Linked DNA regions of Homo sapiens: region 1 is linked to region 2. The links come from fine-mapping of genetic effects on gene expression. Tissue or cell type: whole blood. Region 2 holds a variant in brackets; the other region holds the start of a gene. All regions are shown on one strand. Distances are between the middles of the regions.

Region 1 (2,755 bases), 44 kb before region 2:
GGCGCCAGCAGGGCACGACCGCTTACCTTGGCATGGTGGAGGTAGAGCAGCAAGGCAAGGCTCCAATGCACCCAAGACAGCAGAAAGTTCATGGTTTCGGAGGCCCGACCGGGGCCGGCGCGGCTCGCGCTCCCTCTCCGGCTCGGGCTGTGGGGCGGCCCGCTCTCCTCGGCGCCTCGGCGAGCTACTCTTCCTCCCCGGCCCGAGGCCCGGGCCAGGGCCTGGGGAGCGCGCGCGGCTGGAGCACTGTCTGCGCACACCGCCGCCTCACCCGTCCATGAGCCCGGCTTCCGAGCGCCGAGTCGCCACTGCGGCCCCCTCTCCTCTTCCTTCTCTTCTTCCTCCTCCCCCTCCTCCGGCTGCGGCTCCTCCCGGCCCGAGCTAGCACTTCTCGCGGCTCCGCTCGGCTCGGCTTCCCCCGCGCGGACCACGGCTCCTCCGAAGCGAGAACAGCCCAGAAGTTGGACGAAAAGTTTCAGTGCGACGCCGCGAGCCCCGACCCCCTCCACCCCGCCTCCGGGCGCGGGCTCCGGCCCCTGCCCGCGGCTCGCCGCCGCGTCCACTGTCCGCCGCCGGCCGGGGAGGAGGTGGTAGCTGGGGCTGGGGGCGGTGTCTGTCTGTCTGTCCGTCAGCGCGACTGGTCAGCTGCGGGATCCCAAGGGGGAGGGCTCACGCCGCGCTCCGGCGGTCACCCCCAAAAGCAGGTCACTCACTTTGCCCCTGTCGCTTTCGCTGCTCGCACGCCCGCGCGCTCTCTCTGACCCCGTCTCTCTCTTCCTCGACTTCTCTCTGGAGCTCTTGCTACCTCTTTCCTCTTTCTGCTGGTTTCCAAAATCCACAGTGATTTGGGGAAGTAGAGCAATCTCCCCAAGCCGTCGGCCCGATTCAAGTGGGGAATGGCAAGCAAAAATAAATTAAAACGAGAAACAATACAGTTTTAAAAAAAAATGTTTAAGAAAAAAGAAGAGGGATAAAACCCGGATCAATGAATATCAAATTCCAGCACCGAGCGCCCTGGCCGGTGAGTCCGCTGACCGGTCCACCTAACCGCTGCGCCTCCCGACAGAGCGCTGGTGCTAGCCCCCAGCGCCACGACCTCCGAGCTACCCGGCTGCCCCAAGCCTCCGCGATCCTCCCCGCTACCAGCCGACTTTTAAAAAAAAAAGGGGGGGGCGCATGGCTCCGCCCCGCCGGGACCCCGCCCCCGGCCCGCCCCGGGGGGCGGGGACAGGCGAGCCTCAGCCCTTCCACACGCGGCTCGGGCCCGGGCTCTGCGGACGCTCAGTGAAGCCTGGCCCGCAGCCCGCCGCAATGAAGGGGAAGCTCGACCCCCACCAAGGTTCACAGCCTGAAAATTACCCATCCGCCCCCGGAAACTCTGTCCAGAGACACGCGCCCGCGGGGCATTGGCGAGGAGGGAGCAGGAAAGTGAGGTTACGTGCGGACAGGGCCTGAGAGCCGTTCCCTCTTTGCTAGGAATATTGAAGGGGGCAGGGGAAGGCGGAGAGCCGGACAGGGACGGGTGGGGAGAGGGACACACAGATCTATTGGAATCCTGGAGTGACCCCTGGCCTTCTCCCCGCTCCAACGCCCTCAACCCCACACGCACACACTCACTCACCCACACAGACACACACGTCCTCACTCTCGAAGACGCTGCTCGCTCCATTCACCCAGCTTCCCTGTGGTGGCCGAGCGCCCCCTAGTGACTGCCGTCTGCACACCCCGGCTCTGGCTAAAGAGGGAATGGGCTTTGGAAAGGGGGTGGGGGGAGTTTGCTCCTGGACCCCCTATTTCTGACCTCCCAAACAGCTACATATTTGGGACTGGAGTTGCTTCATGTACAGAGAGCCCAGGGCTGGGCACAGGGGCCACAGTGTGTCCCTCTGACAATGTGCCATCTGGAGCCCTCATCTGGCCTGCAGACATCAAAGTGAGCGGCAGCCAACAGGCTGGAGTGACTGGGGTCCTTTGGGAAGTGTCCAGGGATGCTTCCCAGGGGAGAAGAATTTGGCACCAAGTTTGTGGAGCTGAGAACGGGAAGCTGTGTGGTTCCGGGGTTAGTCAGTGACTGGGAGGGAAGAGGACCTGTTGGAGCCCACGTATGCACTGTGGAGTCTGGCAAAACCCAAAGGGGGAGGCAGCTGGGCAGACAGAGGCCCTTGTTCCTGCTGCCCCCCCAACCCCAGATGTTGCCAGGGAACTGAGGCCAGGGGGCTGGTGGGGGCGGGTGGAGGCCAGGGCCTGCGTGATGATTCAAACCTACCCGCCAGCACTAAGGAACGTCTGTAGGCCAGCTGCCCAGAGCTCCCACCAGGCCAGGGGCCAAGGCTTCTATCAGCCCAAGCCCAGACTCATAGCTCATCTTCTGAATAGAAATGGGGGTTTCGTCTCAGCTCCCCCATTCCCTCAGGATCCCTTGGCTACTTCTCCAGGCTCACAGCTTCTCCCCTATCCTTCCCCCAGTCCCCTCCCTTACCTCCAAGCCCCCTTTTCCTCCAACTCTCCACATCTTCCCTAAGTGCTCCCAAAGGCCCCATCCCATTCTTGCATATAGGAAGCAGCTTGGAAAAATTCCTAGCTGGTTTCTGACCTGGCTATTTCCAGGCTGCCCCAGGGAACAAAGTTGGGGCTCTGAGGCCTGTGGGAAGAGTGGGACCAGTCAGTCTGATTATCCACCCAGATCTTGCCAGGGTCTGGCCTACAGCTGGCATAGCCTCTGTGGAGGCATGGACTGAGAATGGGAATGCAGCAA
Region 2 (2,755 bases):
CTCCACCATGGGAAGCAAACGAGTTAGTATATGTAAAGCCTGGAACATAGTGAGCACTATGTAAGTGTCATCAATTATTTATTTTTCCCAGGGAAGGGGAGGGTGGAATGGAGGAGTCTCACTCTGTCACCCAGGCTGGAGTGCAGTGGCATGATCGTGGCTCACTGCAGGCTTGACTGCCTGGGCTCAAGCAATCCTCCCACCTCAGCCTTCTGAGTAGCTGGGACTACAGGTGTGCACCACCACACCTGGCTAATTTGTTTACTTTTTGTAGAGATAGGGGTTTCATTATGTTGCCCAGGCTGGTCTCAAACTCCTGGACTCAAGCAATCCTCCCGCCTTGGCCTCCCAAAGTGCATCATTTGTTATTTTTAGGTAGATGCATAAGCAGATCATCAAAACATTAGGTGGTTAGTGCAGAATAAGGCAATGTAGATCCAGGGCATCCTGGGAGCACTGGAGAGGAGCCCCAACGTGCCAGGTACAGCCCAGCCAGGGAAGAGAGTCAGGACACTGGGCATAGATGCCCTCCCTGCGTCACCTAACCCTGCATCCCTGGAACCCACTGGCCACCCCCAAGGATGTTGCCTTTCTGAAGTGCTGGAGCAAGTGGAGAGGGGCAGAAGAAATGCATGTGCCCCACCTCCCTGCGGACAAGAGGGGAGAGAGGGTACACAGGTGGCCACAGGCAGGCAGAATAGGGCCTGCTTTCATGGGCCACCTCCTCCCAGGACCCTGGCTCTCCAAAGTGCCTGCCACCCTGTCTGGTGATAGAAATGCTGGGGAGTTGGGAGGAGGGCGGGTGCCCTAACACTCAATCCACATGGAGCAGAATGAAGGGGCAACTCCCCTTTCATGGAGTTCTTTCCTAGACCCTAGAGTTCAAGAGTTCAGGACTCCTGTTCACAGGAGCACACTATCTTTCCACCACTCTCAGCAGGGAGTATCACTGCCCCCACCTCTTAGATGAGTACATGGAGGCTGAGAAGGGACACTGATCTTTCTCAGTCACTCAGTTCAGAAGTGGCAGCGGAAAGTCAGCATCTGGGCTGGCTGCAAAGTGGCCACTCTTCTTCTCCTTCCCCGTTCTGCTTCTCCCAATTTGGGGTGCCCAGGAAAGCCTATTATGTAGGGAGGGCAGGGCTGTGAGACTCAGGGGAGGTGGGGGAGTGAGAGGCAGATATTGCTGTGTAAAATGACCTGGATCTGTGGTGAGGGCTCCAGGATTGGTGGAGAGAGCAGGGTACAGAACTGGGTTGGGGGGTTACAGCCAGGAAGAGATGGAACCACAGGGAGGAAGCCCCGCCTGCCCCCCATCCTCATCACAATAGGCATCGTGGCAAACAGAAGGAGGAAGGGGCAAGGCCCCAACCCCTCCTCCACAGTATCACCTGGCCAGGCAGCCCCATTCCCAGCCCTGCGCCCACAGGGACCAGGATGTGGGCAACTAGGGATAGACAAGCCCTGACGTAGACAACTCTGCGACCCCCATGCCTGGCCTCCTTAGCCACCAGCCAAATACTCTTTGTGGTTTGGGCACCGGCCAAGCGCCCACACCCCAGCTCACGGGACCACAGCTTCCCTGTTGCATCAGGTTACTGAGCGC[G/T]TGCACACGCCCCAGAGCCTGTTACACAACTGTGGTGCGCGTGCGCAGCACCCACACACCCTGGGTGGCTCCACAGTCCCACAGAAGAAACCGCAGCCTTGCCTGGAGTGCACAGGGCCCGCTCCAGACTCTTGGCATTGAGAGCTGGAGATGGGGGTTAGGGGGAGGAGGGTGCCTGGTCTGGGGCCAGGATCTGTGAGCTCCACCACTGGCTCATTGTGAAACACCAGTAAGTCATGGCCCCTCTCTGAGCCTGTTTCCCCACCTAGAAAGGAAGCTCACCTTCCACCCTGATGATCTACATACCCAATTGCCCTCTGCGCCCCTCAACACCCTCCAAACCACCACCACCATCTCCCTTCCTGTAGGAATGTCAGCAAGAGAGGGAAGCAAGAATCTGCACAGAGAGGAGACGGAGGGGTGGATAAGATGACCTCTAAAAGGGCCCTTTCCTCTTGGGGCTTCTCCCCAGTAGAAGTGGGTGTGCCTTGAGGGGAGCTCCATCATCACCCTTTCTCCAGGAAGACCGAGGACAGTGGCCAGAGCTCTTTTGAGAAGAGACTAAGGAGCAGGAGGCAGGGGATGGGTAACTTTCTTCTGGAGGCAGGGGATGGGTAACTTTCTTCTTTGTAGTTTTTTCCCCCACTTTTCTACAACAGACATGTGTCACACACTACTTGCAATGGGTGGAGGAGGGAGTGTGTTGGGAGGGCAAATGCTCTTGGGGAAGGTTAATGTATCAAGCACACCCCCTTTCCCACCCTTAAGCCAGCATTTCCCTAACTATGTTGTGGCAAACGGGCTCAAATAAGCACAGGAAACCTGAGTTAAACACAGTCTAACAGGTTTTCTTGACTGCAGGACTTCTCTGAGCCTCTAACATGCTAATCTGGGCTACAACCCTCAGAGACGAGGGACGAGACAAGGAAACGCATTTAATCTCAGAGCTCTTTATAGGGGAGCATCTCAAGATGCACTTACTAGGCACTGCTGGAACTCAGAGTCCGGTGGCACGCCAGGCCCACACCCCATTGGTGAAGAGCCTCCATGGAGGAGAGACAGCCTAGGCCCCGGAGGACACCAAGGGCAGATGCCCTAGGCAGCTACCTCCCACTGCGTGAGTCCAATCCCAATCCTTCTCCCCAGAAC

Evidence for each region. PIP is the estimated chance that this variant, and not a neighbour inherited with it, causes the effect.
Region 1: VEGFA starts here. The variant in region 2 is fine-mapped to the expression of VEGFA in whole blood (TOPMed, PIP above 0.99).

What each region holds. Positions count from the first base shown.
Region 1 is chr6:43,768,584-43,771,338 of GRCh38, reverse strand. It overlaps VEGFA (vascular endothelial growth factor A), which reads right to left and starts at 1,128. Exons shown (of 8, transcript NM_003376.6): 1 at 27-1,128. The coding sequence starts at 632. RefSeq lists silencers at 1-688, 1,066-1,315 and an enhancer at 1-703.
Region 2 is chr6:43,724,114-43,726,868 of GRCh38, reverse strand. No RefSeq gene overlaps it. Among named protein-coding and RNA genes, the nearest start is that of MRPS18A, 38 kb to the right of the region's middle. RefSeq lists an enhancer at 1,839-1,928. The variant G/T (reference allele first, on the strand shown) is at 1,607.